Linked DNA regions of Homo sapiens: region 2 is linked to region 1. The links come from fine-mapping of genetic effects on gene expression. A gene starts in region 1. The other region holds a variant in brackets. All regions are shown on one strand. Distances are from middle to middle.

Region 1 (16,360 bases):
GTCTCATCTAGGAATTCCAATTATGCACTAGTTGGCTCTTCTTTGCCTATCAATTGTAGCTATATTGTCCCCACCCCTTTAATCCTTTTAATTTGGCGCATCTCAGAAAGCACTAGAAAAGAAAAACTGCTTCCTGAAGATGTATCTCTTACTTGCAGTAAAGTAGGGACTACAATGTAGCTCCGTAGGGAAGACCCACTTTAGTTTAACTAAGGAGAGAGGCTGCAAGCTGTGAAATTCAGGAGGTTCACTTGTGTGACTCACGTCTATGCCTTCTGGTCAGTTCCAGGTCCTCCACCATTATGGAATTGCTCCATCCCTTAGTGTGCAAATGGAAGTTCCTGAGTCCTCATCCTACCTGCAATGGGATGCCTAGTACTCCAGCATTTCTGGGCTTCTCAAGGGGACGTATGTCTCCTAGGCATTATGTACATTAGCTTTCTGCTTCTATGGCATTGTCAGTCTCACTTGGGGTCAGGACATACGGCTCTTCTCCCTGCCCTGCTGTCTGTCTAAACGAAGATCTTTTCCTCGATGTCCCTAAAGAAACAGACATTTGGGTATAGCCAACTGTTAGAAGAATTTAGGGGGATAGAGGAGAGTCATCTTACAGAATGACAGAGCAAAAAAACTTACAATTGATTGTTACATGCTACCTTTCCCCTGAGTCTCTTGCCCATTCCACCCAGTGGGGTTTCCCCACTCCTAGTCTCCTCCTGGGGCCTCAGCTTCTCATCAGCTTTCACGCTACTCCTTATTTTTAAACTGTTTTCAGGCTGGGTACAGTGGCACATGCCTATAATCCCAGCACTTTGAGAGGCCGAGGCAAAAGGATCGCTTGAAGCCAGGAGTTTGAGAGCAGCCTGGGCAACAAAGCGAGATCCTATCTTAATAAAATTGTATTTTTAAAAGCTTTTTTTTTTTCTTTTTTTGAGATGAGGTCTCACTCTGTTGCCCAGGCTGGGGTGCAATGGCATGATCTCGCCTCACTGCAACCTCTGCCTCCCAGGCTCAGGCAATTTTCCCACCTCGGCCCCTCAGGCTTCCGAGTAGCTGGGACCACCGGCATGTGCCACCAAGCCTGGCTAATTTTCTTTTCTTTTTCTTTCTTTTTTCTTTTTTTTTTTTGTGAGACGGAGTTTCGCTTTTGTTGCCCAGGCTGGAGTGCAATGGCGCTATCTCGGCTCACCGCAATCTCCGCCTCTCGGGTTCAAGCGATTCTTCTGCCTCAGCCTCCTGAGTAGCTGGAATTACAGGCATTGCCTGACTAATTTTGTATTTTTAGTAGAGATGGGGTTTCTCCATGTTGGTCAGGCTGGTCTCGAACTCCCGACCTCAGGTTATCCGCCCACCTTGGCCTCCCAAAGTGCTGGGATTACAGGTGTGAGCCACCATGCCTGGCCCTAGCTAATTTTCTTTTTGTACTTTTGGTAGAGACAGGGTTTTGCCATGTTGCCCAGGCTGGTCTCAAACTTCTAAGCTCAAGTAATCTGCCTGCCTCGGCCTCCCAAAGTGCTGGGATTACAGGGGTGAGTCTCTGCACCCAGCCAAAAAGAGCTTTTTTCTTTTCTTTTCTTTTTTTGGAGAGATGGGATCTCTCTCTTTTGCCCAGGCTGGAACTCTTCAGCTCAAGCAATCCTCCGGCCTCATCCTCCTGTGTAGCTGGGGCTACATTCCTTTTCATTTTTTTTAATTAAAAAATTGTGGGGTTTTTTTTGGCCAGGCACAATGGCTCACGCCTGTAATCCCAGCATTTTGGGAGGCTGAGGCGGGTGGATCACCTGAGGTCAGGAGTTGGAGACCAGCCTGGCCAACATGGTGAAACACTGTCTCTACTAAAAATACAAAAATTAGCCAGGCGTGGTGGTGCATGCCTGTAATCCCAGCTACTAGGGAGGCTGAGGCAGGAGAATTGCTTGAACTCAGGATGCGGAGGTTGCAGTGAGCCGAAATTGCGCCACCGCACTCCAGCCTGGGCGACAAGAGCAAGACTCGATCCTAAAAAAAAAGAAAATTGTTGTTTTTTTCTTTTTTATTGTAAAATATACCTAACATTAAAAAGACCATTTAACCATTTTTAAGTGTAGAATCTGGTGGCATTAAGCACATTCACAATGTTATGTCCATTATTTTTATTTTATTTTTTATTTTTGAGACAAAGTCTCGCTCTTGTCACGCGGGCTGGAGTGCAATGGCGCAATCTTGGCTCACTGCAACCTCCACCTCCTGGGTTCAAGTGATTCTCCTGCCTCAGTCTCCCGAGTAGCTGGGATTATAGGCGCCTGCCATCACGCCTGGCTAATTTTTTTATTTTTAGTGGAGATGGAGTTTCACCATATTAGCCAGGCTGGTCTCGAACCCCTGACCTCAGGTGATCCACCCGCCTCAGCCTCCCAAAGTGCTGGGATTACAGGTGTGAGCCACCGTGCCCGGCCAATGTTGTGTCCATTTCTAAAATTTTTTTTTATCGTTTGAAACAGAAACTCCGCAGCCATCAGGCACTCACTGCCCACACTTCCTTCTTTGCTCTCTGACCACTCGCGCCCCATTTCATTCCTGTTCATTTCTCATTTCCTTCTTATACTGACCAGTTCAGGTCTTCCCTCTCCCATCAGCTTGGTTCCAGGCCTACCTTTTGATATCATAGCTGTGCCCACTAAAAAAAGAGAAAGAAAAATGCAGACCTGAAGCTCCACCGTTAGCATCTCAAAGCATGTTTTCAACTCCGCTTTGAAATTACAGACTCAAGGAACACGATGAAACTCGTGGGCAAGACCTCCTTCCCCACTGATGTCTGTCTGTTCTGAAGGGGGCCACAGAAAGACATATCCTTCTGGAGATGAATTATGCATTTTCCTTAAGAGGCACATAGAGCTTTACCAACTTTTTCAACAACGTTCCCCCGCTACATAGTCTTTCTTTTGTGTTATTTAGTTTACCATTTCTTTTTTCCATCTTGTTATAACCTCCACGAGTTGTGTCTCTTTTGTTTTCTACATTATACCCAACGGCTAGCACATAACAGGCACCCAATATATACTGAACGAACTAAGGAATGAATGAAGGAATGAATGAATAGGTGGCTTATAGGAAACCCCTGGGGCCAGGGACTCTGCAACATCACCATGTAACTTTTTCTTTGTGCTGAGAAGCAGAGAGAAACAATAGAAGATATCTCTTAATCTCTCAAGGATGCTACTCCCAGGACTGCTTGCAATTTCCGAGGAGATAAGCCACAAGTTACAGAAAGGAAGCAGCTGTGTAGGGCCTGCAAGTTTCCTGCTGCAAGTCACCCTATGTTCAGAAGTTACCCTGGCTGGGCCAGGCATGGTGGCTCACGCCTGTAATCCCAGCACTCTGGGGAGGCTGAGGCAGGTGGATTGCTTGAGTCCAGGAGTTTGAGACCAGCCTGGGCAACATGGAGAAACCCCATCTATACAAAAAATTAGCTGGGTGTGGTGGCATGAGCCTGTAGTCCCAGCTACTTGGGAGGCTGAGGTGGAAGAATCACCTGAGCCCAGGGGGTCAAGGCTGTAGTAAGCCAAGATCACGCCACTGCACTCCAGCCTGGGCAACCAGAGTGAGACCCTGTCTCGAAAAAAAAAAAAAAAAAAAGAAGGAAGGAAGGAGAAAGAGAAAGAGAGAAAAGAAAAAAAAGAAAAAGTTACTCTGACTTTCTACACTGCTTTTAATGAATAGAAATTTATCTTTCCCCTCAGTGTTCTGGAAGAGTTTACAAATATGATTGAGGGGCTGGGCACCGTGGCTCACGCCTGTAATCCCAACACTTTCGGAGGCTAAGGCAGGCAGATCACCTGAGGTCAGGAGTTCGAGACCAGCCTGGCCAACATGGTGAAACCCCGTTTCTACTAAAAATAAAAAATTAGCTGGGTGTAGTGGCGCACACCTGTAATCCCAGCTAATTGGGAGGCTGAAACACAAGAATTACTTGAACCCAGGAGGCGGAGGTTGCAGTGAGCCACAGTCGTCCCACTGCACTCCAGTCGCTGCACTCTCGCCAAAAACAAAAACAAATAAATATGATTGAGTATTACCATAGGCTCTGGTTCCTGCCCTGAGGGAAGGTGAGTTAAAAAGCAGTCAGAGGCCGGGCATGGTGACTCACGCCTGTAATCCCAGCACTTTGGGAGGCTAAGGCAGGAGGATAGCCTGAGGTCAGGAGTTTCAGACCAGCCTGGCCAACATGGTGAAACCCTGTCTCTCCTAAAAATACAAAATTGGCCGGATGTGGTGGTGCACACCTGTAATCCCAGCTACTCAGAGCCTGAGGCAGGAAAATTGCTTGAACCCAGGAAGTGGAGGTTGGAGGTGGAGGTTGCAGTTAGATGAGATCGTGCCATTGCACTTCAGCCTGGGCTAAAAGAGTCTCAAAAAAAAAAAAGCAGTCAAAGCAGTAAGAGGTCTAATGTGCTTCAAAACTGTAGTTTCAGCACTTTGGGAATCCAAAGTGGGAGGACTGCTGGAGCCCAGGAGTTTGGGACCAGCCTGTGTAACATAGCAAGACCCTGTCTCTACAAAAAATAAATTTAAAAAGAGCCAGTGGTGGCCGGGCGCGGTGGCTCATGCCTGTAATCCCAGTACTTTGGGAGGCCGAGGCGGGCGGATCACGAGGTCAGGAGATCGAGACCATCCTGGCTAACACGGTGAAACCCATCTCTACTAAAAATACAAAAAATTAGCCGGGCATAGTGGCAGGTGCCTGTAGTCCCAGCTACTCGGGAGGCTGAGGCAGGAGAATGGCATAAACCTGGGAGGCAGAGCATGCAGTGAGCCAAGATAGCGCCACTGCACTCCAGCCTGGGTGACAGAGCGAGACGCCGCCTCAAAAAAAAAAAAAAAAAGGCCAGTGGTATGTGCTTGTCGTCCTAGCTACTTGTGAGGCTGAGGCGGGAGGATCAGTAGCTCAGAAGGAACTCCAGAACTGAGTTCTGAACAAGTGAAGCTTCAGATGCAGTGATGCGATCATGGCTCACTGCAACCTCCACCTCGACCTCCTGGGCTCAATTGATCCTCCCGCCTCAGCCTCCCAGGTAGCCGAGACTAGAGGAGCGTGCCACCATGCCTGGCTAATTTTTTGTACTTTTCATAGAGATAGGGTTTTGCCATGTTGCCCAGGGTGGTCTCTGATTCCTGGGCTCAAGCAATTCTCCTGCTTCAATCTGCCAAAATGCTGGGATTACAGGTGTGAGCATCATGCCAGGCCTTGGGAACTTTTGGGGAAATGGAAATATTCTAGATGTTGATCTGGATGCTGGTGTCACACCCATTTACTTGGATAAAAATGAATCAAGTCCTCACGCCTGTAATCCCAGCACTTTGGGGGTGGAGGCGGGTGGATCACCTGAGGTCAGGAGTTTGAGACCAGCCTGGCTAACATGGTGAAACCCTGTCTCTACTAAAAAAAAAAAAAAAAAAAACCCACAAAAATTAGCCGGGCATGGTGGTGGGTGCCTGTAATCCCAGCTACTCGAGACGCTGTGGTAGGAGAATCCTTTGAACCCAGGAGGCAGAGGTTGCAGTGAGCTGAGATCACGCCACTGCACTCCAGCCTGGCGACAGAGCAAGACTCCATCTCAAAAAAAAAAAAAAAAAAAAAAAAAGGGAGAGCCGGGTGCGGTGGCTCACGCCTGTAATCCCAGCACTTTGTGAGGCCAAGGCAGGTGGATCACAAGGTCAGGAGATCGAGACCATCCTGGCCAACATGGTGAAACCCCGTCTCTACTAAAAATACAAAAATTAGCTGGGTGTGGTGGAGCATGCCTGTAATCCCAGCTACTCAGGAGGCTGGGGCAGGAGAATCGCTTGAACCAGGGAGTTGGAGGTTGCAGTGAGCCAAGATCATGCCACTGTACTCCAGCCTGGTGACAGAGTGAGACTCCGTCTCAAAAAAAAAAAAAAAAAAAAGAGTCAAGTCATACACTTAAGTTTGATATATTTCACTGAATGTAAACTGTGCTTCAAGAAACAAAACCCTTCCATGCACAAAACACCTAGGGTGACATCTGTTTCCTGCACTGAATATCTGATTTTGGGAGAGGAGCCCTAGGACAAGAGACAGCAAGAGGGGCTGAGAGCAAGCAGGGCACCAGAAGCTGGGAGCGTGGAGGGACGTGACCAGGGAGAAGTCCCCTGTGTTGGGGGAGGCCTGTGAATTTTAGGAACTCTGATATCTAACTCTCAAGGCATGTCCTTGCCAAGCAGCAATACAATTAAGTGTGCCTAATCTTATGGCTCCCACACTTTCAATTGTTCTTCCTGAAACAATTAGATATGAAGCCGCAAGAGCCCAGGCAGGGCTGGATTGATTCTTGAACTAATCAACATTTATGCCCTCTTGGCTAAACTAGGCAGAGTTGGTTTTATTACAGTTCAGATGTGATTAAGCACACTGTATTGTGTCAGCGGCAGGTGACGAGCCACACAGTGTCCTGAGGCCTGATGAAAGGGCTATGCCAACCACAGTCCCAGAGGAGGAGCTGGCTGTAGCAGCGACTGACCCAGGAGCTGAAGTGAGCCAAGCCCCCTCCTCCTGAGACCCCTGAGAGGTAAGGCAGGCTCATGCCAGACCCTATTACGTCCCACATCATGGCTAGAACCAGAACCATCTTACATGGCTGGTCAAGGCAAGGATAACCCCAGGAAGTCAGAGGACTTGGAGACTCTGTATTGTAGGAAAAAAAAAAAATACTAGAAAAGACACTGGAGCGTCACCAGCAGTCACCCCTGGATGGTGGCATTATTATTATTAGTAGTATTTTTTTTGAGATGGAGTCACTCTGTCGCCCAGGCTGGAGTGCAGTGGCATGATCTTGGCTCACTGTAACCTCCGTTTCCTGGGTTCAGGCAATTCTCCTGCCTTAGTCTCCTGAGTAGCTGGGATTACAGATGTGTGCCACCATGACTGGCTAATTTTTGTAGATGGTGGCATTATGAATATGGATTTTGGTTTTCATCATCAAATATTTCTGTTTTCCCCACATTAGCTGTAAACAGTATATATTTTTGGTAAATTAAGTTGAAAGAATGAAAAAATTAAAATAGTATAAAGAATATCTGTTTAAGTGCAGTGGAGTGTGCCTGTGGTCCTAGCTACTTCGGAGGCTTAGATGGAAGGATTGCTTGAGCCCAGGAGTTCAAGACCAACCAGAGCAATGTAGCAAGACTGTGTCTGTTTTATTTTAAAAATAAATAAATAAAACATAAAGAATAACTGTTTAAAATACTATTCAAAATGAAGTCATAAAGGAGGGGATTATGTTTTTTAGTCATAGTTCCCTCAAGGGCTCAGACCGGAGAACATAACCGAGTTTGGAGCCCTCTGGCACTGTCTTTGCGCCTGACCTCTGCTCTCCAGGGGGTGACGTGAGCTGGTGGGTGCTGAGTCATCATGGGTGGGTCACAGCCTCCCTCGGAGGCCTGGAGATGGGCCTGTCTGTGCTGAACTTTACTGGGCAGGGGGCAGCTCCAAGGCCCTCACTGGGGGCAGCCTAGAGCATAGATCACTCTCTGGACTTGCTCTTCTCCTAATAAATGGACAGTGATCAATGAATTACACCCATGAAATAGGGTGGGATGCAATAAGAAATAAAAGATAATATAAATAGCCAGATAGGGTCAAAAGATGATTTATTTTACTTTATATTTTTGAAATAATTTCAGATTTACAACATAGTTGCAAAAATAATGCAAATGTTTACATCTTACATAACCCAGTACAATGATCCTAACACTGACAGATTGTTGTTGTTGTTGTTAATTTGAGACAGAGTTTCACTGTTGTTGCCCAAGCTGGAGTGCAATGGTGCGATCTCGGCTCACTGCCGCCTCTGCCTCCCGGGTTCAAGCGATTCTCCTACCTCAGCCTCCTGAGTAGCTGGGATTGCAGGTGCCCACCACCATGCCTGGCTGATTTTTGTATTTTTAGTAGAGACAGGGTTTCACCATGTTGTCCAGGCTGGTTTCAAACTCCTGACCTCAGGTGATCCACCCACCTCGGCGTCCCAAAGTGCTGGAATTAGAGGCGTGAGCCACCATGCCCAGCTAGATTATTGTTAACTGATCCAAAAGCCTTATTTGGATTTCACCTGAAGTCCTTTTTCTGTTTCAGGATCCAACCCAGGTTCCCATATTGCATTCAGTTGTCATGTCACTTTGGTGTCCTTTTCTCTGGAGCAGTCTCTCAGTCTCCTTGTTTTTCCTGACCTTGAAATTTTTGAAGAGTTATTCTGCAGAGCAGTGCTATCCAATAGAACTTTCAGTGATGATAGAAATGCTCTGTTTGGGCCTGACGCTGTGGCTCACACCTGTAATCCCAGAACTTTGGGAGGCTGAGGCAGGCAGATCACCTGAGGTCGGGAGTTTGAGACCAACCTGGCCAAGGTGGAGAAACCCCGTGTCTACTAAAAATGCAAAATTAGCTGGGCATGGTGGTGCATGCCTATAATCCCAGCTACTCGGGAGGCTGAGGCAGGAGAATCGCTTGAACCTGGGAGGCAGAGGTTGTGGTGAGCCGAGATCACGCCATTGTACTCCAACCTCAACAACAAGAGTGAAACTCTGTCTCAAAACAAAACAAACAAAAAAAATAGAAATGCTCTGTGTCACCGAGTATGAAGCCATTAGCTACATGAAAATAGCATTTGAAATGTGGCTCATGGGCCAGGTGCAGTGGCTCACGCCTGTAATCCCAGCACTTTGGGAGGCCAAGGTGGGTGGATCACTTGAGGTCAGGAGTTTGAGACCTGCCTGGCCCATATGGTGAAACCTCGTCTCTACTAAAAATACAAAAATTGGCCGGGCGTGGTGACATGCGCCTGTAGTCCCAGCTACTCGTGAGGCTGAGGCAGGAGAATCACTTGAACCCGGGAGGCGGAGGTTGCAGTGAGCCGAGATTGGGCCACTGCACTCCAGCCTGGGTGAAAGAGTGAGATTCTGTTTCAAAAAAAAAAAAAAAAAAAAAAAAGAGAAATGTGGCTCGTGGGTCTCAGGAACTGGCTTCTAAGTATTATTTAATTTTAATTAAAATAGCTACATGTGGCTAGTAGCCATTGTATTGGATAGGACAGCTGTCAAATGTCTCTCGTTTTGGGTTTGCTTACTGTTTCCCTATGATTAGTTTCAGATCATGAGCTTTTGATAGGAATACCATAAGCATGTTGTTGTGTTCTTCTTTGTCTAAATCTTTATAAAAGCTGTTGATAGGTGGCAGGGAACCACCTAGTCAGGCAGTGGGATTGTTTGAATGCTCTTTGAGGTCCAGCAAAGACAGGAGTGATAGCTGCACTTGGAAGCCCGCTCCTACACTTTCAATGTTCTTCCTGAAAGAATTAGATATGAAGCTGCTAGAGCTGCTCCGGTGGGGAGCAGGCAGGATTGATTCTTGAACTAATCAACATTTATGCCCTCTTGGCTAAACTAGGCAGAGCTGGTTTTATTACAGTTCAGGTGTGATTAAGCATACTTTGTAAATGCTGAAGGTTGTGAAATATTCACAGGGATATAAAGTACAGTAATAAAACCTCACTTGAGGCTGGGCGTAGTGGCTCACGCCTGTAATCCCAGCACTTTGGGAGGCCGAGGTGGGAGGATCACCTGAGGTCAGGAGTTTGAGACCAGCCTGGCCAACATGGTGAAACTCCGTCTCTACTAAAAATACAAAAATTAGCCGGGCGCAGTGGCATGTGCCTGTAATCTCAGCTACTTGGGAGGCTGAGGCAGGAGAATTGCTTGAACCCAGGAGGTGGAGGTTGCAGTGAGCCGAGATCGCGCCATTGTACTCCAGCCTGGGCGACAGAGCATGACTCTGTCTCAAAAAAAAAAAAAAAAAAAAAGAATAGAAGACCCTGTGCCTGGAAGATCGTAGGTGCTCAGTAAGTGCTGGCCTCTGCCCCAGAAGGGGAAGGGCGAGGCAGATGGCAGGAACTGCGGGAGGTACCTGTCCCAGGCCCTTGGGCGTAAGAGGCCTCTCCCACGCAGCACCCAACCCATACCCAGCCTGCCCGCCAGCCAACCTTGGCGTCCCTGCCTTGCGCCTACCTACCCAGCAGTCCCCCGCCCGCTCCCACTCCCACAGGCCCAGCGTGCACGTCTCCAGGATAGGCATCCTTGCCCCTGTGACTTCAGCGGCACCCAACGTTTATTGGGCACTAACTGTATGCCAGGCCATGGGGGTGCCGGAGAGAACGACACGAAGACCCTCACCCCTCAAAGTTCCCAGGGGGAGGAGGGGCTGCTTCACTTGGGAAGCGTGGGGATGGAATTCTCAGCCCCCCGATGACTCCGAGGCCGGCCACCTGCCTGGTTTCTGGCCGGACACCGGACTTCCCCTGGAAGTTGCTCGAGACTGCGCGCCCCCAGCAAAAAATCAGGTCGGTTCTCCGAGCCCAGTCTAGCGCTTCCCGACCCGCAAACCAAGGCCCAGTGACCGTCCCCGCTGCGCAGCCGCCTGCGTCGCCAGCCAACCACGCGCGGCCGAGTAGCCCCGCCCCTCCACATGGCCAATGGCCGCGCGCTCTGCCCGCCCCGCCTCCTCGCTGCGGGAAGGGTCCTGGGCCCCGGGCGGCGGTCGCCAGGTCTCAGGGCCGGGGGTACCCGAGGTAAGATCGCTTCCCGGGCGTTGGGTCCTTTCGGCTCAGCACGCACGGACGCCTTTAGGGAAGGTGGCTGCAGCGGCAGGACGGAGTCCGCCGGGACGCCCTGGGTCTGGGGTGCGCGGGGGGCCCAGGAGGGGACAGGACGCGCGGGGATCCGGAAGAGCGGGCCCTGTCGCAAGAGTTTCGGGAACACTGAGGGCTCCAGGCGCCGCATCCAGCATCCGGGGAAAAGGGGGTAGGTGGCGCTGGGCGTCTGCTCAGGCTGGGGGAAAGGTAGGGCCAGAAGGGGACGGGCAGCGGCCGCTGACCTCCTCCTGCCGCCCGCGGGCCCAGGGTGACGCTAAGGTGGGGCCGAGCCTCGACCGGGTGCGCCTAGAGGTCGAGTGCTGCCGCCCTCCGCTGGGTCTGGACAGTTCTCGGCGGCGACACCAGCTCAAAACGGCCTCCCCGCCCTCCGCGGACCTGGGTCGCGCCCAGGAATCCGATCCAAGGCTGTGAGGCCTGTCCCTTTGGGAAGGGTGGGTGTTTATTTCCGGGATGCACTCAGAGCCTCTGGACAGTCAGGTCGGAAACTTTGCTGTATTGGGAACACTCTGTCACCTACTTCCTTCTCAGTTGGGAAGGAAGTGCCAAGAAAACATGAAACAAACCAAAAACACGAAAAAGGGATTCTCTGTATGGAAGCCGTGAAGCCTCAAAAATATCTAGGAGGACAGCCAGCGACCTGGGACCTGTGGCAGCCATGTGAAAGCAGGGTTAATGTCTGGACTAAATGTTGCTTCCACCTAAGTGCACCCTCAGCCTCCCTCCCGCCAAGTGACCTTGGGTCCTCTTTGGGCTTGAAGGCAGGTGGCTGTGTGGGTCTCGCTGCAGGGGTCTCTGTGCCCTGCAAGGTGTATGACCAGTTGCAGTGAGGCAGCAGGTTTTGGGTTCAAATCCTGTGCTAGCCTCTGGCCAGCTGTGCACCTTGGCAACACTTTCCCTGTCACGGGATTGGGGAAGGATTAACTGAAAGAACCTTAGGATGTGCCTGTCTACAATGGGCCCTCCATAAATGTGAACAAATGTGGGCTTCCTTTCCTTTTGTTTGGGCCACATCATCCCTTCCCCTCCATCTGTGGCTGAAGCTGGAATGCAGAAGAGTGCCTCATCTGACTGCCTTCTGGTACCTGGCTGATGCCATGAGAAAGGAAGGAGAAAGGGGTCTTTTTTTTTTTGAAATGGAGTCTCACTCTCTTGCCCAGGCTGGAGCGCAGTGGTCCAATCTTGGCTCACTGCAACCTCTGCCTCCTGGGTCTAGAGATTCTCCTGCCTCAGCCTCCTGAGTAGCTGGGACTACAGGTGTGTGCCACCATGCCTGGCTAATTTTTGCATTTTTAGTAGAGACGGGGTTTCACCATGTTGGCCAGGCTGGTCTCAAACTCCTGACCTCAAGTGATCTGCCTGCCTCGGCCTCCCAAAGTGCTGGGATTCCAGGCGTGAGCCACCGCGCCCGGCCGAGAAAGGGATCTATTAACTCCCATAGAGTTGTTCTTTGCTAATTTCTTGAAGGCTCAGAGGACCCCCGCCTCACCTTCCTGATTCTCCTGACCTGTCATTAGTACTTGCCCCACGAGGAATGTAGCAGGGCCTGCTGGCTGGCAAAGCAACTCATGCATGTGAGGCTCTGAGGCCAGTGACAGGACTGCTTCCCCTGTGAGGAAGGTCTGGTGGCCCAACAGCTTTTAGGTGCTGTCTGCTCTACAGCACTGCCTCCTGAGAGAGGTCTCATGCCTGCCTGATGCCCACTTGGTCCTCTCCTGCCTCCTTCCCTCCCTGACAACCCACTTGGAATCCAATAGCATCTCAAACTTCACTTGTTCCGAACTGAGTTCTGGAGTCCCTTCTGAGCCACTGCTCCTCCCCTGGCTTCTCTGGCCTGGTAAAAGGGCACCTTCCATCCACCCAGTGCCCAAGGAGTCATGCTTCTTTTCTCTCCCTTATCTCCTACACCCTCAAAACACCAGGAATCTGGCTGCCTCCTGCCATCTCTGTGGTTCCCATCCTGACCATAGTCATCCTGTCTCCTGGGCTGTGGCCTCCTTACTGGTCTCCCAGTTTTCATCCTGGCCCCTCCAAAGTCCTCACAACCACCAGAGAAGTCTTTAATGTAAATCAGATCCTCTTCTTTCCCTGCCGGAACCTTCCAGTGGTTCCCTGTTTCACTCCAACTAAAACCCAGAGTCCTTTCCTACAGCACTCTACATGAGTGGCCCCTGCCACCTCCTTGACCTTGACAATCTCTGCCCCTTTCCCTAGCTTGCTTGCTTTTTTTTTTTTTTTTCCTATGATGGAGTTTTGATCTTGTCACCCAGGCTGGAGTGCAATGGGATGATTTCAGCTCACTGCAACCTCTGCCTCCTGGGTTCAAGCGATTCTCCTGCCTCAGCCTCCCGAGTAGCTGGGATTACAGGCGCCCACCACCATGCTAATTTTTGTATTTTTAGTAGAGAAAGGGTTTCACCATGTTGGCGAGGCTGGTCTCAACCTCCTGAGCTCAGGTGATCCACCCGCCTAGGCCTCCCAAAGTGCTGGGATTATAGGCGTGAGTCACGCAGCCAGCCATCCCTAGCTTTCTTGACCTAGACCACACTGACCTGCTTTCTATTCTTCAAACATGCCAAGCTCATTCTTGTTTTAGGACTTTTGCATTTACCATGCTCTCTGCCTAAAACACCAATCTTCTCAGAGCCTGAGAACAGCTCAGCTGTGTTCTGCACGCTAGTTCAGAAAGGCTTCTTTGACCCCCTAGTTCAAGTAGCATGCCTGTCTCCAGGGGCTCTGTCTCATTACCTGCTTTACTTTCTTTAGAGCCTTTATTGCTATCTGGAACTCTTATTTGGGTATTAATTTACTGATCTGTTATTTGTCCCACCCCATTAGAATATAAATTGGATGTGGCATAGACCTTGTCTCTTTTATTCCCTGCAGCACTCCCTGATGGGGGCGGCAGAAAAGTAACGAGCAAATACATCTATAACTGCAAATTGTGGTAACTCCTACATAAACAACTGGCAGCAATTGCTTATATTTGAGGCACTTAAAAATTTTTAAGCTGGCTGGGCGCGGTGGCTCATGCCTGTAATCCCAGCACTTTGGGAGGCCGAGGCGGGCAGATCACGAGGTCAGGAGATCGAGACCATCCTGGCTAACACGGTGAAACCTGTCTCTACTAAAAATACAAAAAATTAGCCGAGCGTGGTAGCAGGCGCCTGTAGTCCCAGCTACTTGGGAGGCTGAGGCAGGAGAATGGTGTGAACCCGGGAGGCGGAGCTTGCAGTGAGCCGAGATTGCACCACTGCACTCCAGCCTGGGTGAAGGAGCGAGACTGTCTCAAAAAAAAAAAAAAAAAAAAAAAAAGAAATTTTTTTAAGCTGCTGGGCGCGGTGGCTCACGCCTGTAAATCTCAGCACTTTGGGAGGCCGAGGTGAGCGGATCACCTGAGGTCGGGAGTTCGAGACCGGAACATGGTGAAACCCTGTCTCTACTAAAAATACAAAATTAGCGGGGCGTGGTGGCTCATGCCTGTAATCCCAGCTACTTGGGAGGCTGAGGCAGGAGAATCGCTTGAACCCAGGAGGCAGAGGTTGCAGTGAGCCGAGATCGCGCCATTGTACTCCAGCCTGGGCAAAAAGAGTGAACTCCATTTCAAAAAAAAAAAAAAAGGCCAGGCGCAGTGGCTCACGCCTGTAATCCCAGCACTTTGGGAGGCCGAGGCAGGCGGATCACGAGTTCAGGAGATTGAGACCATCCTGGCTAACACGGTGAAACCCTATCTCTACTAAAAATACAAAAAATTAGCCGGGTGTGGTGGCGGGCGCCTGTGGTCCCAGCTACTCGGGAGGCTGAGGCAGGAGAATGGTGTGAACCCAGGAGGTGGAGCTTGCAGTGAGCCGAGATTGCACCACAGCACTCCAGCTTTGGTGACAGAGCGAAACTCCGTCTCAAAAAAAAAAAAAAAAAAAATTTAAGCTTAGAGGCCGGCCACAGTGGCTCAGCACTGTGCAGGCCAAGGCAAGAGGATCACTTGAGGTCAAGAGTTCGAGACCAGCCTGGCCAACATGGTGAAACCCTGTCTCTACTAAAAAATACAAAAATTGGCCAGGCGCGTTGGCTGGCGCCTGTAATCCTAGCAACTTGGGAGACCAAGGCAGGCAGATCACCTGGGGTCAGGAGTTCAGGACCGGCCTGGCCAACATTAAAACATATAAAACCCCGTCTCTACTAAAAATATAAAAATTATCCAGGCATGGTGGCGTGTACCCGTAATCCCAGCTACTCGGGAGGCTGAGGTAGGAGAATTGCTTAAACCCGAGAAGCAGAGGTTGCAGTGAACCGAGATTACGCCACTGCACTCCAGCCTGGGCAACAGAGCGAGACTCTTTCTCAAAAACAACAACAACAACAAACAAACAAATTAGCCAGGCATGATGGTGGGCACGTGTAATCCCAGCTACTCGGGAGGCTGAGGCAGGAGAATTGCTTGAATGTGGGAGATGGAGGCTGCAGTGAGCCGAGATCACACCACTGCACTCCAGCCTGGGCGACAGGGAGACTCTGTCTCAAAAAAAAAAAAAAAAAAAAAAGTTTATAAGGCTGAATTACCGTACTGTCAAAACAAGCTGCTATCTGAGCCGTTTTAAGGGTGAGGAAGTCTGGAAACTGATAACTTGCCCAGGACACACAGTGAGTTCAAGGCATGGAACTCAGTCTCCTATCTTAAGAATGTATGTGGGCCGGGCATGGTGGCTCACGCCTGTAATCCCAGCGCTTTGGGAGGCCAAGGCAGGCAGATCATCTGAGGTCAGGAGTTCAAGACCAGCCTGACCAACATGGAGAAACCCTGTCTCTACTAAAAATACAAAATTAACCAGGTGTGGTGGTGCATGTCTGTAATTCCAGCTACTCAGGAGGCTGAGGCAGAAGAATCACTTGAACCCGGAAGGCAGAGGTTGCGATGAGCCGAGATTGTGCCATTGTACTCCAGCCTGGGCAACAAGAGTCTGGAACTCTGTCTCAAAAAAGAAAAAAAGAATGTATGTGTAGCAGGCTTTTTTTTTTTTTTTTTCCCCCGAGACGGAATCTGGCTCTGTCGCCCAGGCTGGAGTGCAGTGGCGCAATCTTGGCTCACTGCAAGCTCCGCCTCCCAGGTTCACGCCATTCTCCTGCCTCAGCCTCCCGAGTAGCTGGGACTACAGGCACCCGCCAGTACGCCGGGCTAATTTTTTGTATTTTTAGTAGAGACGGGGTTTCACCGTGTTAGCCAGGATGGTCTTGATCTCCTGACCTCGTGATCCACCCGCCTCGGCCTCCCAAAGTGCTGGGATTACAGGCGTGAGCCACCGTGCCCGGCCTATGTGTAGCAGGCTTTAATGGTGGGCCTGCAGCCATGTCATGGAAAGAAGCTGACCTGAAGATCTCAGTTCTTTCTTCTTCTACTAACTAGCAAGCATACCTCAGTTTCTTCTTTAAAGCGGGATGATCCGATTATTATCATGTTGGGGTTCACTTTTTATTTTTTCAGTGTGTCCCAAAGCAGCAGCACGTTTAGGTATAGCCCTCTTGCTATCAGCTTGAGGGCCTTAGAGCCAGGAAGGGAGCCAGGACATTTATAGGCACAGAAACTAGGGTCACATACAGATCCCCCCACCGCATGTGCTAGGGGTACATGCAGACCTTCCCAGTGCTGACCAACCTGCAGAGAAGAA
Region 2 (16,360 bases), 30 kb after region 1:
TGAAGGCCTCAGGGCAGGTATGTGGTGTGTGGGCGACTCCACAAGACCTGCCTCCCATCCTGGCAGCCCAGCCTGAGACCGTTGCATTGAGGCAGGCAGGAGCGGCAGGGTGGCTGCTCTCCAGGAGCCCAACTGCCTTGAGTTCCTGCCCCACTGGGCCCCCTCCCCTGCTGGGCAATCCTGGGAAGGTCTGGAGGTTCCTGTGGACCTCAGGGAAGCCAGGGGCAGCTGTCAGGCCTGAGGAAGACCTGTGGAGCTCCTCTCCAGCCTCCTCTTTCCCTCCCCTCTGGTCTCCATTCTCTTCAGCTCCCTACATGGGCTGGGGAGGAGACACCTGGTGGGCAGAGCTCAGGCAGAGGTTTGGATTTCAGCTCCCTCACTTCCGGGGCTGTGTGGCTTTGGCAGATGTCAGACTTCTGGTCTTGCTTCTCCACGTGGACAGTGAGTATCTGGCTCATTCTTCACTGGGTTCTTCTGAGATTGAACCTACAGGTGTTTGCCAAGTGCCTGGCCCAGAGCAAGTGGCCACTGCTTCTCCCATCTCTCTCCTGCCCAACCTGGTAGAGCTGAGGGCATGAGAGGCAGAGTGCACAGTGGTCAAGGGTGCAGCTCTGCAGCACAGGCAGCCTAGGCCTGCGTCCCAACCTGCCTCTCACCAGCTCTGTGACCTTGGGCAAGGGATTTATCTGTCTGTCCCTTAGTTTTCTCACCTGTAAAAGGAGGATAAGTATATATATATATTTCCCAGTGTTGTGAAGATTAAAGGAGTTTATCGATGTAGGTCTTAGGATGAGTCCTGGCATTTACCAAGGGTTGGATATATGTTATTATCACTATTAAGTGTTGAGGGTCCAGGCATGCTGGGCAACAGGGACCCCATCTCTACAAAAAAGTTTAAAAAATTAGCCAGGCGTGGTGGTGCACCTGTCGTCTTAGCTACTTGGGAGGCTGAGGTGGGAGGATCACTTGAGCCCAGAAGCTTGAAGCTGCAGTGAGCTAGGATCGTGCCACTGCACTCCAACCTGGGTGAGAGAGCGAGACCCTGTCTCAAGAAAAAGAAAAATGCAGAGAAACAGGAGTCTTGGCTACTCCTTTAGAGGCAGACTCAGACCCTCCTGCCTCACAGCTTTATCTTTGTATTTGCCCCTTACTTTATCTTGTGCCTTGAGAAATTGCTGGGGAGAGAGGTATGTCCACTGGGCAGCTGTACAGGATGGAGGATATAGGGCGTTTCCACTCCCAGCAGCCAGGTTCCCTCACCCCAAGCTCACCCACTGTTGGGGAGATTATCTACAATAACACCAGAAACACATTGGGGTGGATTGGGGGTATCCTTATGGGTTCTTTTCAGGGAACCATTGCTGGACAAGGCACAGGAGCCACCTCCATTTCTGAGCTCTGCAAGGGACAAGAACTAGAGCCATCAGGGGCTGGGCTCACTGTGGCCCCACCCCAAGCCGTCAGCCTCCAGGGATCTACACCCTGCCTTGGCTGCTACAGCTTTTTCACTCCACTGCCCTAGGGGAGTTCAGCAACCTAATGATCTCTATCTCTGAACATCTCTTCATCCCATGCTCCAAGTCCAGCAACCTGCACCCTGGAACCAGGAGTGGACCCTACCCGAGCTGTCTGTATTAATCCCCATCCCCCACCACCAATCTTAAAAAGCCCTCTGTCCCCCTACCCTAAACCCCAGTTAGGTACCCATGCTGGGCAGGTCAGTTAACAATTTATGCACAGGTACTAGTTTTATTGTATTACCGTTCCAGGGTAGCTTTGAAAAAAGTATCTCAAAAAGGCAACATGGGCCGAGCGCAGTGGCTCACGCCTGTAATCCCAGCACTTTGGGAGGCCAAGGTGGGCAGATCGCCTGAGGTCTGGAGTTCAAGACCAGCCTGGCCAACAGGGTGAAACCCCGTCTCTACAAAAATAAGAAAATTAGCCAGGTGTAGTGGCAGACGTCTGTAATCCCAGCTATTCAGGAGGCTGAGGCACGAGAATTCCATGAACCCAGGATGCGGAGGTTGCAGTGAGCCGAGATTGTGCCACTGCGCTCCAGCCTGGGCGACAGAGTGGTATTCTGTTTCAAAAAAAAAAAAAAAGGCAGTATGTAGCCCCGAAGACTGTTGCCCAAGTGGTAGAATGTTAGCACACTACCAGCCTAGGTAAAAAATACAAAAAGTAACTGGGCATGGCGGCGCCCATCTATAGTCCCAGCTACATGGGAGGCTGAGGTGGGAAGATAAGTCACTTGAGCCCGCCAGGAGGCGGAGGTTGTAGTGAGCTGAGATCGCACCACTGCACTCCAGCCTGGGTGACCGAGTGATACTCTGTCTCAAAGAAAAAAAATTATAATTTTAGCACAGTAACCAGCCATGATGGGAGATACCCTGGGTAAGGCATGTAGAAAGGGTTGAGGGACCTTCCCAGTCCCCTAGCCCCGCCTCCCATCCTCCCATCTTTTTCTTTTTTCTTTTTTTTAGAGAATCACCCAGCCTGGAGCGAAGTGGTGCAATCATAACTCACTGTATCCTTAAACTCCCGGGCTTAAGCGATCCTCCTGCCTCAGCCTTCTGAGTAACTAGGACTTCAGGTACCTGTCACCATGCCTGGCTAATTAAATTTTTTTTTCTTTTTTTTTTTTGAGATGGAGTCTTGCTCTGTCACCCAGGCTGGAGTGCAGTGGCGCGATCTCAGCTCACTGCGACCTCCACCTCCTGGGTTCAGGCCATTCTCCCGCCTCAGCCTCCAGAGTAGCTGGGACTACAGGCGCCTGCCACCACGCCTGGCTAATTTTTTTGCACTTTTAGTAGAGACGGGGTTTCACTGTGTTAGCCAGGATGGTCTCGATCTCCTGACCTTGTGATCCGCCCGCCTCGGCCTCCCAAAGTGCTGGGATTACAGGCGTGAGCCACCGCGCCCAGCCAAATTAAATTTTTTATAGAGATGAGGTCATGCTGTTATGTTGCCCAGGTTGGCCTCATGAGATCTTGCCTTAGCCTCCCAAAGTGCTGGGATTACAGATGTGAGACACTGCACCCAAACCCCACCACTTTTTTTTTTCCTTTTTCTTTTTTTGAGACAGTCTTACTCCGTTGCCCAGGCTGGAGTGTAGTGGCATGATCTCAGCTCACTGCAACCTCCGCCTCCCGGGTTCAAGCAATTCTCCTGCCTCAGCCTCCCGAGTAGCTGGGATTACAGAGGCCTGCCACCAC[A/G]CCCGACTAATTTTCGTATTTTTAGTAGAGACGGGGTTTCTCCATGTTGGCCAGGCTGTTCTTGAACTCCTGACCTCAAGTGCTCCACCTGCGTTGGCTTCCCAAAGTGCTGGGATACAGGAGTGAGCCACTGCGCCTGGCTGATCCCAGCACTTTTCAAATGATGCCGCTCAAAGCCGTGACTTGGCCTACTTTGAACAGCAAACTTGTTGCTGCTGTTGTCAACCTGAAGGCCTCTCAAATGCCAGCTTCAAGCAGGGTGTGAATTGGCCAGTGTCAGATCTCAGGAGTCCTGTGTTGAGAGTGTGGCTTTCAGCTGCGGGGAGCTGCACTTGGTGGGGAAAGCCAGGCAGGTCACCCTCACAGCCAGATAATGTGGAGGTCAGAACCCAAGGAAGGGAGTGAGACCTCCACTCCCAGTGGGGGACCTGGCCACCCATCCTTGGGGACCTGAGAAAGCGTACTTCACCTTGGGGTGAAGGCTGGGTGGGGCCAGAGGGACCAGTGCCCTCCTCAGTGCTTAGGGGCAGAGCCACCTGCAGCAATGGTATCTGCATATTAGCCCCTCTCCACCTTCTTTCTCCCGCTGAATCATTTCCCTCAAAGCCCAAGAGCTGTCACTGCTTCTTTCTCCCTGGGAAGAATGCGTGGACTCTGCCTGGTGATAGACTGAAGCCAGAACAGTGCCACACCCTCGCCTTAATTCCTTGCTAGGTGTTCTCAGATTTATGAGACTTCTTAGTCAAATATGAGGGAGGTTGGATGTGGTGGCTTGTGCCTGTAATCCCAGCATTTTGGGAAGCCGAGGTGGGAGGATCCCTTGAAGCCAGGAGTTTGAGACAAGCCTGGGCAACAAAGCAAGACCCTATCTCTAAAAAAAAAAAAAAAAAAAAAAAAAAAAAAAAAAAAAAAAAATCTAGGAGATGCTCTTTACCCTGCCTGGCCTCAAACTATTAATAGCTTCCTTTGAGCAACATTATTTATTATGAACTTTCAAACACAAAAAAGTAGAGAGAGTAGAATAACAAATCCCCATGAGCCCATCACCCAACTTCAGTAATTATCAATTCATGGCCATCTTGTTCACCCCTGCCTGCTTCCCTGCTTCCCCTCATTCTGCAGAGGTTCTTTTCTTTTGAGACAGAGTGTTGCTCTGTTGCCCAGGCTGGAGTGCAGTGGTGCAACTTCGGCTCACTGCAACCTCCGCCTCCCAGGTTCAAGTGATTCTCCTGCTTCAGCCTCTCAAGTAGCTGGGATTACAGATGCCCGCCACCACACCTGGCTAATTTTCGTATTTTTGTTAGAGATGGGGTTTCACCATGTTGGCCAGGCTGGTCTCGAACTCCTGACCTCAAGTGATCCGCCCGCCTTGGCCTCCCAAAATGCTGGGATTACAGGTGTGAACCACGGTGCCTGGCCACTGTACAGGTTATTTATAGAAGTTGGAGAGTGAAGGGTTGAGAAAGCCAAGGGGCAGATGCGGGTCTGGAGGATTTTGTGCCTAAGGCCCTCTCTTTGCTCCCAGACAGCATGAAGTAACAATGAGGCATCCACCTCTTGGTTTTGTGGCCTCTGTGGATGACGTCTCTCACCTTGAACCAGTTCAGAGTTGGAGTAGCGCAGGATCCTGTCTTCAGAGGAGGGGCCGAAGCGGGTTCCTCTGTTGTCAAGCTCTTTGGAGGTGCCTGGCTGCTACTACTGTCCCAGAGAGGTGATGATGAATGATGGGTGTGTCCAGTGGCAGTTTGCCCCACTGAGGCAGGGGCTTCCACTAGGCCCTGACAGAGCCCTTCCAGCAGGCAGAAATCCCTGTGCTAGGCAAGATTCAAACTCCGTAGCATGTCTCCTGCTCCCATCTCTTAGGAATGGAGTCCTTCAGGCCTTGAGTCCCACATTTTCCATGATGCTCCATTAAGCAGCTGATAGCACCCCCACCTCCAGGGAAAGTGAGTTCAGAGTCCTTGGTCTAATGCATCTGTGTTGAAATTGAGGCCTTCCCCTGTGTTCACCTTTCTGCTCTTTTTCTTTTAGCCCAAGGCTATGAAGGCCTCATTCGGTGCTGGGCATGGTCACTCCTAGCATTCCTCACTCTGTTGCTAACAGCAACAGCAATAATAATAAGGGTTACAACTTACTCCATACCTTACTGTCTGCCAGGCATTAAGCTAAGTGCTTTACATATATTAAGTCATTTAATCCTCATAATGACCCTATGAAAGAGATACCATCTCAACCCAATTGACAGCTGGTTTGCAAGATTAGGAGGGATGAAGGACCCAGGGGACAATGCGAGGGAAAACTCTGACCCCGGGGCCCCAGGCTGGATGTTCTTTATGCCTGTGAACCACAGCTTATCACATGTCTGGAGTTAGGGACCCCACTTAAAGTGAGATTTTGGCTGGAGGTGGTGGATCATACCTATAATCCCAGCACTTTGGGAGACCAAGGCAGAAGGACTGCTTGAGGCCAGGAGTTCAAAACCAGTGTAGGTAACAGCTAGACCCTATCTCTACAAAAAATTTAAAAATTAGCTGGGTGTGGTGGTATGTGCCTCAAGTTCCAGCTACTCAGGAGGCTGAGGTGGGAGGATCACTTGAGCACAGGAGTTTGAAGTTACAGTGAGCTATGATGGCACCACTGCACTTCAGCCTAGGCAACAGAGGGAGACCCTGTCTTTAAAGTACATAGAGGTTTTTCACACCAACACATCTCTGCCCAGTGTGCCAACATCTGCCACCTGCTATAATAGTACTATAACACTCAATATGTAATTAATGTAGTCTCAGGGATGTTATGACAATATGATTACAACTATCACGTGTGTGCCCAGCCAGGCTCAATGCCCCAGGCTGGGCGAGGTGGGGCAGGGGACACAGCCTAAAATGCCAGGCCTCAGGAAGCCATTTGGTTTAGCAGACATTGTTTATTAAAGGAGTTACCTATGCCAGATCGAAGGCCTAAGATGATTAAGACACTATGAGTGCCTTCAAGTGGTTGGGGACGTTCATGATTGTGGTACAGACAAATAGGCTTTCACATCATTCTTTTATGTAATCATACAACAGATATTTGCACCTACATGTGCAGAGCACTGTGATAGGCCTCAGTGACACAGAATAATACGGCAAAGACCCCACCCGATGAGCCCCCTCCCACCACCCACCAGTACAGTAGGGGGTGGTTTAATGGAGTGTTCCTGGAATATGAAGTGGGGGCAGGCATTAGGGGTGGCAAAGGGACAAGTGTTTATCTGATCAGTTATGTACTGTTTATAATAAGTAAATCAGCAGAGGGGGAATAATACTTAGAACCTATAGAGAGTAAATCTGACAAGATGAAATGCTGATGAAAATATGGAGGAAATGAAACTCTCATGGGTTTTGCAGGGAATCTAAGTCAGTGCTGTGTTGTGAATGTAGGTGTACCCTTTGAATTCATATGTTGAATCCTAACCCCCAAAGCAATGGCATTAAGAGGTGGGGCCTTTGGGGCTGGGTATGGTGGCTCATGACTGTAATCCCAGCACTTTGGGATGCTGGCAGGGGGCAGATCACTTGAAGCCAGGAGTCTGAGATCAGCCTGGCCAACATGGTGAAACCCCATCTGTACTAAAAATACAAAAATTAGCCAGGTGTGATGGCGTACATCTGTAATTTCAGCCACTCGGGAGGCTGAGACAGGAGAATAGCTTGAACCCAGTAGGTGGAGATTTCAGTGAGCCGAGATCGTGCCACTGCACTCCAGCCTGGGTGACAGAGCGAGACTCCATCTCAAAAAAATAATAAAGATGTGGGGCCTGTGGGAGGTGGTTAGGTCATGAGGGTGGAGATCATGAATGGGGTTAGCACCTTATAAAACAGGCTTGAGGGAGCCCTTCTGTCCCTTCTACCATGTGTGGATGCAGTGAGAAGGCACCGTATCTCTGAAGCAGAGAGCCCGCCCTGGACACTGGATCTGCTGGCACCTTGATCTTGGACTTCCCAGCCTCTAGAACTGTGAGAAATAATTTTTTGTTGTTTACAAATTACCCAGGCTAAGGTGTTTCATTGTAACCTGAATGGACCAAGCTGGTGTGACCCTGTTGGAAAACTGGCAGTATCTACCAAAAGCCGAACATACGTATAAACTGATCCAGCAGTTCCACTCCTGGGTATGTACACCACAGAAAGCTATGTCCACCGAGACATTGGCAAGAATGTTTCTAACCACACGCTGACTGTAGCCCCAAACCTGAAACAACCCAAATGTCCATCCACCAACCCAAATGTCCATCCACAGTTGAAGCTACAGTGAAGTCACAGGGTCGAATACTACTGCACAGCAACGAATATGAATGAAAATATCGCTATGCACAGCAACATGGATAAATTTCACAGACATGAGGTCAAGCAAAAGAGGTCAGAGTCCTCATCATCAAGAGAGAATTCATTGTATGATTCTCTTCCTACAAAAAGTACAGAAATAAGCAAAACTGATCCATGGTGTTAGAAGCCAGGGGAACAGTTAACAGGGGAGGGATACTGGGGAGGGGCATCCTGGAGTGCTGGTCTACCTCATCTGGGTGTTGATTTCACGAGTATTGTCAGTTTGTTTCCAGACTCCCTGTTGGAGATGTGGAAATAAAAACCACCTAAACAAGAGCAGAGAGGCCATTTGGTCAAAGTTTGCAAAGGAGTCAGCCATGATTGCTTGTATTTGGCAGGGGTCAAAGGCAGGCAGGGACTGTGAAATGTTATAGTGGAAAAAAAGGGAAGGCTCTGGGTGTGCTGTGATTGGAGATTGTTGGCATGGGGACAGAGCGGACTAACTGGAGGGGCATCTTTGGTTGGTTGGGGGGGTATATTTGGCTTTCTCTGGTTGGTCTGGAGTTGGAAGAGGGGGTGTGGTGGCTGGGGATTGGGAAGAAGCTGGCAGCCACTAAGTTCAGACTGTTCTGGGTCCGATTGCTGCTGAGGCTGTGGTTTGGCTTCCTTGGCTTCCCAGGCTGGTCATGGGTTTCTGGCCAGAGTCTATTGTCATATGTGGCCTGGCCATTGTCCAGTTGTATGTTCAGTCTCTTGGAAGGAAGGGTATTGACTCTGAGAGGGGCCACCATCGCTGGAATGGGGGACACACAGTACTTCCTCCAGCTGCCTACACCCCCCTAGGGTCAGTGGCGCCTGCCTGTGAGGGTGAGCCCAATGGCTAGAGGGCTCTGCTCCAAGTCATTGCTTACTACACCCACAAACATTCTTCGTTCTTTAAGGCCTAACTTAAAGCCCAGATCCTACAGGAAACCTTGATTAGACCCCTCTCTTTATTAAGCTTCCTAAGATCAAACCCTGCTTTTGTGTAAATGCTGACCTCCTTGCCTACATTTTAAAAACCTAGAGCTGGGCATGATGGCCCCAGCCTGTAATCCCAGTGATTCAGGAGACTGAGGTGGGAGGATTGCTAGAAGCCAGGAGTTCGAGACCAGCCTGGGTAACATAGCTAGACCACATCTCTTAAAATAAAATAGTTAATTTAGCCAGGCATGATGATATATGCCTGTAGTCCCAACTACTTGGAAGGCTGAGGTGTGAGGATCTTTGAGCCCGGGAGGTCGAGGCTACAGTAAGCTATGATCTCACCACTGTACTCCAGCCTGGGTGACAGAGCGAGACCCAGACTCAAAAAATAAAAATAAAAACCCTGAATATCTTCCTTCTACTTCTTCAGTGCTGTTTTTATTTAAAAAAAAAAAAAACCAGCCAAAACCACAACTTTTTACTGAAGTGTAATGTAAATGCTGTAAAAGGCAGTGAAAGGCACAAGGGAGGTGGAGGGGTAGGAAGGGTGGAAGTGGCGGGAGGAAGTGGCAGGGCAGGCAAAATGAAGGGAAGCCCTGGGTTCTTGTCCTGCATCCGCAGCCAGCTCCCACTTTCCTCACCCTCCAGGACCTGTAAACTGTGAGGCTGGACCAGTTATGTCAAATCTGTCCTCCCCCAGAGCTCAGTCCCTCTGCCCTTGGGTGTCCTTGGCACAAGGCAGGCTAGGCTGCACCAGCTTCCTCCATCTCCGTCCTGCCTCCCCCATCCCCAGGTGCCATTCCCACACCATCTGAATCACTGATTTCCTCGCAATCAGACGCTATCTTCCAGTTAATCACTTCGCTTGTATTTAACATAAGAAAGAAAAACCCTTTCATTATCACATACAGCTGGAAATCGGCTTCTTGCAGGAGGCGTATCCAAAGGAATTGGAGAAGAGATAAACTGGTAATTGGTGAAAGAATTACTTTAATTTTTTTTCCTACTTGCTGTCATGATGATGTCCTTAGAATTGTGAGCCCGTGGACACTTCTGTACAATAAATCTGCTATTATTACTTCTAGAACTACAGTTATAATGGTCTACAATGGCCAGATGCCTGCTTGTAATGAGAAGCTACTGCAGTGAAGATCAACAGAGTCAGGGGGCTTGTCTGTGACCTCTCCTCCTTTTCCCTCCTGCCTTCTCCCTGGGGATGGGTGGGTTTCTACTTAAAGACAAGCTCCCAGCTCTCAGACAGAGAATGTATGAGAGCAAAACAGAAGTCACAGTCCTTTGGTACTTAATCTTGAAAGTGACATCCCAGCAGTTTTTTTTTTTTTTTTTTTTTTTTAAGACAAGGGCATGCTCTATCGCCCAGGTTGGAGTAGAGTGGAGTAGAATGTCTCACTGCAGCCTCAAACTCCTGGGCTCAAGCAATCCTCCCACCTCAGCCTCCTGAGTTGCTGGGACCAGAGGCACACGCTACCATGCCTGGCTAACTTTCATGATTTTTAGTAGAGATGCGGTCTCACTGTGTTGCCTATGTTAGTCTCAGACTGCTGGGCTCAAGTGATCCTCCTGGCTCAGCCTCCCAAAGTGCTAGGATTACAGGCAGGAGCCTCTGCATCCACTCCCATCACTTCTGTAAATTGCAGTCAAGGGGCAATTTACCCAGAAGTAGGAACCACTGGAAGCACCATTATAGCAGCTGCCTCTTCAGGAGGGGAATTTGATTCTGTCCTACAAAATGACATATGCATGTGTTTTTTGACCCAGCAATTCCATTTCTAGTAGTCTAAGCCAAAGATAACATTGGCAAAAATAAAGATATATGTCCAAGGCTAGTCATTATAGCCCACTGTGTAAATAGCAAAAGACTGGAAATAACTCAGACAATGTCCATCTACAGAACATTGGCAATAAACCAAGGTATATCTACATTGGAGTGCTATGCAGCTGTGAATAGAAATGAGTATCTCTATACTGCTATGGAGTGAACTCCATGATGTTTTGCTAAGAGGAAAAAAAAAGTGGAAAACTGTATATATAATATAGAATCTTTGGGCTGGGTGGTGGCTCATGCCTGTAATCCCAGCACTTTGGGAGGCCGGGGCAGGTGGATTATGTCAGGAGATCGACACCATCCTGGCCAACATGGGGAAACCCCGTCTCTACTAAAAATACAAAAAAATTAGCTGGCCATGGTGGTACGCGCCTGTAGTCCCAGCTACTCGGGAGGCTGAGGCAGGAGAATCGCTTGAACCTGGGAGGCAGAGGTTGCAGTGAGTCACGATCACAGCACTTCCAAAAAAAAAAAAAAAAAGACCTGACTCCAGTGGACTGAAACTCATCAAATAGGCTTTTAAAATCCATGAGTTGGCCAGGCGCGGTGGCTCACGCCTGTAATCCCAGTGCTTTGGGAGGCCAAGGCAGGTGGATCACGAGGTCAGGAGTTTGAGACCAGCCTGGCCAACATAGTGAAACCCCGTCTCTACTAAAAAAAAAAATACAGTCCGGGTGCGGTGGCTCATGCCTGTAATCCCAGCACTTTAGGAGGCTGAGGTGGGCGGATCACCAGGTCAGGAGATTGAGACCATCCTGGCTAACACGGTGAAACCCCGACTCTACTAAAAAAAAAAAAAAAAAAAAAAAAAAAATTAGCCAGGCATAGTGGCAGGTAGCCTGTAGTCCCAGCTACTCGGGAGGCTGAGGCAGGAGAATGGCGTGAACCTGGGAGGCGGAGCTTGCAGTGAGCCGACATAGCGTCACTGCACTCCAGCCTGGGCGACAGAGACTCTGCCTCAAAAAAACAAAACAAAACAAAACAAAAATAAGCTAGACGTGGTGGCACGCGCCTGTAGTCCCAGCTACTCAGGGGGCTGAGGAAGGAGAATCGCTTGAACCCGGGAGGTGGAGGTTGTGGCGAGCCGAGATCACGCCAGTGCACACCAGCCCCGGCAACAGTGTGAGACTCCGTCTCAAAAAAAAAAAAAAAAAAAAAAAAAACACCAGGCATGGTGGCGCACGCCTGTAATCCCAGCACTTTGAGAAGCCAAAGTGGGTGGATTCTATGAGCTCAGGAGTTCGAGACCACCCTGGGCAACATGGTGAAACCTCCTCTCTGCTAAAATAGAAAAAATTAGCTGGGCGTGGTGGCACTTGCCTGTAGTCCCAGTTACTCAGGAGGCTGAGGCAGGAGAATCGCTTGAACCCAGAAGGCGGAGGTTGCAGTGAGCCGAGATCGCACCACTGCACTCCAGCCTGGGCAACAGAGTGAGACCGTCTCAAAAAAAAAAAAAAAAAGCCACCAGTTCATGATAATACTAAAAAGAATTCATTGTTGACCTCTAGAGGATGCCCCAGGAAACCAACTCATTCTGAAAACTGGTCAGTAAAGGGAAAGAATTGATCCTGCCTTTTCTATTTGAGTAGTTCCAGCTCCTCTGGAGGCTGAGGTTGAGGTACTTCAGGATAACAAAGAGTTGATGAGGGAAGATTCTTTATAGAAATATTCCAGTTAGGCTGGGTGCGGTGGCTCACACCTATAATCCCAGCACTTTGGGAGGCCAGGCAGGTGGATCACTTGAGGTCAGGATTTCGAGACTAGACTGGCCAACATGTTGAAACCCCATCTCTACTAAAAATACAAAAGAAAAGTAGCTGGGTGTCGTGGTGCACAGCCGTAATCCCAGCTACTCGGGAAGCCGGGGCAGGAGAATCGCTTGAACCTGGGAGGAGGAAGTTGCGGTGAGCTGAGGTCGTGTCACTGCACTCCAGCCTGGGTGACAGAGTGAGACTCTGTCACACACACACACACACACACACACACACACACACACACAAATTCCAGTTAACCAAGCATAGAAGAAACTACCTGATTAGAAAATTACGGTAGGGGCTGTAGCCCCTAACGTAAGTAGTTAATGTTATGAATTTCTCTTCTCTTGATGAGATGAATAAAAAGTAAATAGTGAGACATGGTGGCTCACACCTGTAATGTTTTCACTTATAAGTGGGAACCACTTTGGGAGGCCAAGGTGGGAGGATCGCTTGAGGCCAGGAGTTTGAGACCAGCCTGGGCAACATAGTGAGACCCTTGTCTCTAAAAAAAAAAAAAAAAAAAAAATTAGCTGGGCGTGGTGGTGCACACCTGTACCTCCAGGTACTTGGGAGGCTGAAGTGGGAGAATTGCTTGAACCCAGGGGTTTGAGGCTGCAGTAAGCTGTGACTGCACCACTGCACTCTTGCTTGGGTGACAGGGTGAGACCCCGTCTCAAAAACAAAACAAAAATAGAAAAATAATGTTTAAAAAGGTAAATAGCACCTGTGAAGAATTCTTTTAAAGAAATCAAACCTGGGCCAGGTGCGGTGGCTCATGCCTGTAATCCCAGCACTTTGGGAGGCTGAGGCAGGCGGATCACCTGAGGTCGGGAGTTCGAGATCAGCCTGGCCAACATGGAGAAACCCATCTGTAATAAAAATACAAAATTAGCCAGGTGTGGTGGTGCATGCCTGTAATCTCAGCTACTCAGGAGGCTGAGGCAGAAGAATCGCTTGAACCTGGGAGGCGGAAGTTGTGGTGAGCTGAGATTGTGCCATTGTACTTCGGCCTGAGCAACAAGAGTGAAACTCCACCTCAAAAAAAAAAAAAAAAGGCAAAGCAATCAAATATAATATGTTAATATGTTGATCTCATTTGGAAACTAAATTGATTTTTTAAAAAATTTACTTAAGAGACTGGGTCTTGGTATGTTGCCTAGGCTGGACTCAAACTCCTTGTGTCAATCAATCCTCTCGCCTCAGCCTCCACTACAGGCTTTAAGAAATTAGCTCTAAGTCCTTATGGTAGGAAAGCTGTAACTCAGGTTACTGGATCATGGAGAGGCCAGGATTAGGTGACCTGAAAAATGTGGGCTTGGTCTCCATCATGATTGTTTAATTAAGACTCTTGGTTCCAGCTGGGCACGGTGGCTCACGCCTGTAATCTCAGCACTTTGGGAGGCCGAGGCGGGTGGATCACAAGGTCAGGAGATCGAGACCATCCTGGCTAACACGGTGAAACCCTGTCTCTACTAAAAACAAACAAACAAACAAAAATTAGCTGGGCATGGTGGCGGGTGCCTGTAGTCCCAGCTACTCAGGAGGCTGAGGCAGGAGAATGGCATGAACCCAGGAGGCGGAGCTTGTATTGAGCCGAGATTGTGCCACTGCACTCCAGTTTGGGTGAAAGAGCAAGACTCCGTCTCAAAAAAAAAAAAAAAGACTCTTGGTTCCAAGTAACAGAAGACAATGTAAGCTAGATTAAAATATGGGGCGGGAGACTTAATAAACTTATTTTAATGTTGCGGGGGGAGACATATGGAACACAGACAGGAATGTATTCAGCCTAGGGAATGGATAGAAACAGGCAGGACTGGGAGAGCTGGCAAAGTGCTTTTTCTGTTCTGTTCATCTGTTCACTCTTGGAGCTCTGTGCAAACCTACTTTTTTTTTTTTTTGAGATGCAGTTTTGCACTGTCACCCAGGCTGGAGTGCAGCGGTGCGATCTCGGCTCATTTCAACCTTGGCCTCCTGGGTTCAGGCAATTCTCCTGCCTCAGCCTCCCGAGTAGCTCCCTCCACCATACCCAGCTAATTTTTGTATTTTTAGTAGAGATGGGGTTTTGCCATGTTGGCCAGGCTGGTTTCGAACTCCTGACCTCAGGTGATCTGTCTGCCTCGGCTTCCCAAAGTGCTGGGATTACAGGCGTGAGCCACTGCGCCCGGCCGCAAACCAATTTTTTCTGCTTCTTTGACCCCACGAGGAATGTGGCATCACACTTTGAGAAGTAAGTCTCTATTCCAAGGTGGTGGGGTTTAGGAGGTACAAACATGGCTGTTGGGGCCTAATCTATGATCTATAGGAGGAATGGTTGTAAGTTGGGTAGATGTCAAATATGTCCACTATGAAGATGTAGTTTTTTTTTTGAGACAGAATCTCGCTCTATCGCCCAGGCTGGAGTGCAGTAGCGTGATCTCGGCTCACTGCAACCTCCGTCTCCCAGGTTCAAGCAATTCTCTGCCTCAGCCTCCTGAGTAGCTGGGATTACAGGTGCCCCGCCGCCATGCCCGGCTAATTTTTTTTCGTATTTTTAGTAGAGACAGGGTTTCACCAAGTTGGCCAGGCTGGTCTTGAACTCCTGACCTTGTGATCCACCCACCTTGGCCTACCAATGTGCTGGGATTACAGACGTGAGCCACCACACCCGGACTGTTTTTTTTTTTGAAGATGGAGTCTCGCTCTGTCACCCAGGCTGAGTGTAGCGGCATGATCTCAGCTCAATGCAACCTCTGCCCAAGATATAGGTATTTTAAGGGATCCTAAACTTGGTATTGTCACTGCAATCATTCCTTAGCAAATGGTGTGTGTGCACTCACACTCTGAAAGGTACTGGGGGATGTAAAGATGCAAAGTCTTAATCTGATAGCTCTCATATCTAGTTGGGATTATACAACGTGTACACCAAGAATCTTAGGACCAGGAAGTACGAGAAATGCCACTGAGAGTGACATAAGGCTGGGCAAGGTGGCTCACACCATAATCCCAGCACTTTAGGAGGCTGAGGGGGGCGGATCACTTGAGCTCAGGAGTTTCAGACCAGCTTGGGCAACGTTGTAAAACCCTGCCTCTTCAAAAAATACAAAATTAGCCAGGTATAGTGGTGTGGACCTGCAGTCCCAGCTACTTGAGTGGCTGAGGTGGGAGGACTGCTTGAGCCGGGGAGGTGGAGGTTGTAGTGAGCCATGATTGCGTCACTGCACTCCACCTTGGGTGACTGAGCCAGACCCTGTCTCAAAAAAAAAAAAAAAAGGGCCAGGCATGGTGGCTCACGCCTGTAATCCCAGCACTTTGGGAGGCCGAGGCGGGCGGATCACGAGGTCAGGAGATCAAGACCATCCTGGCTAACACAGTGAAACCCCGTCTCTACTAAATATACAAAAAAAAGTTAGCCGGGCGTGGTGGCAGGCGCCTGTAGTCCCAGCTACTCGGGAGGCTGAGGCAGGAGAATGGCGTGAACCTGGGTGGCGGGGCTTGCAGTGAGCCGAGATCGTGCCACTGCACTCCAGCCTGGGCAACAGAGCAAGACTATGTCTCAAAAAAAAAAAAAAAATCAGGGTTGGCCGGGTGCAGAGGCTCATGCCTGTAATCCCAGCACTGTGGGAGGCTGAGGTGGGTGGATCACCTGAGGTTAGGAGTTCAAGACCAGACTGGTGAAACCCTGTTTCTACTAAAAAATACAAAAATTAGCCGGGTGTGGTGGCATGCACCTGTAGTCCCAGCTACTTGGGAGGCTGAGGCAGGAGAATCACTTGAACCCAGGAGATGGAGGATGGAGTGAGCTGAGATTGCGCCAGTGCACTCCAGCCTGGGCGATGGAGAGACAGACTCTGTCTCCAAAAAAAAAAAAAAAAAAAAAAAAAGATCAGGTTTACAGTGAACTGTGGTAATCAATGAAGACATTAAGGAGGAGGTATCATTTGGGCCATGCCATAGAAGTTGGATTGGATTTTGATAAGCAGAAATGTGGCGGGAAGGAATTTTATGTAGAGATGTAGAGATGCCCTTTGGGAGGCTGAGGCAGGCAGATCACCTGTGGTCGGGAGTTCAAGACCAGCCTGACCAACGTGGAGAAACCCCATCTCTACTAAAAATACAAAAATTAGCTGGGTGTGGTGGTGCATCCCTGTAATCCCAGCTACTTGGGAGGCTGAGGCAGGAGAATCGCTTGAACCCAGGAGGCAGAGGTTGCGGTGAGCTGAGATAGCACCATTGCATTCCAGCCTGGGCAACAAGAGCAAAACTCCGTTTCAAAAGAAAAAAAAAAAAAAGATG

The links. PIP is the estimated chance that this variant, and not a neighbour inherited with it, causes the effect.
Region 2: its variant is fine-mapped to the expression of MAVS in whole blood (TOPMed, PIP above 0.99).

The regions. Positions count from the first base shown.
Region 1 is chr20:3,836,288-3,852,647 of GRCh38, forward strand. MAVS (mitochondrial antiviral signaling protein) reads left to right here and starts at 10,547. Exons shown (of 7, transcript NM_020746.5): 1 at 10,547-10,616. RefSeq lists enhancers at 7,330-7,474, 8,463-8,602, 14,557-15,058, a cis regulatory region at 7,397-7,407 and silencers at 9,964-10,013, 10,444-10,823.
Region 2 is chr20:3,866,547-3,882,906 of GRCh38, forward strand. MAVS (mitochondrial antiviral signaling protein) reads left to right here. Exons shown (of 7, transcript NM_020746.5): 7 at 1-9,572. Among named protein-coding and RNA genes, the nearest start is that of PANK2-AS1, 14 kb to the right of the region's middle. The variant A/G (reference allele first, on the strand shown) is at 3,216.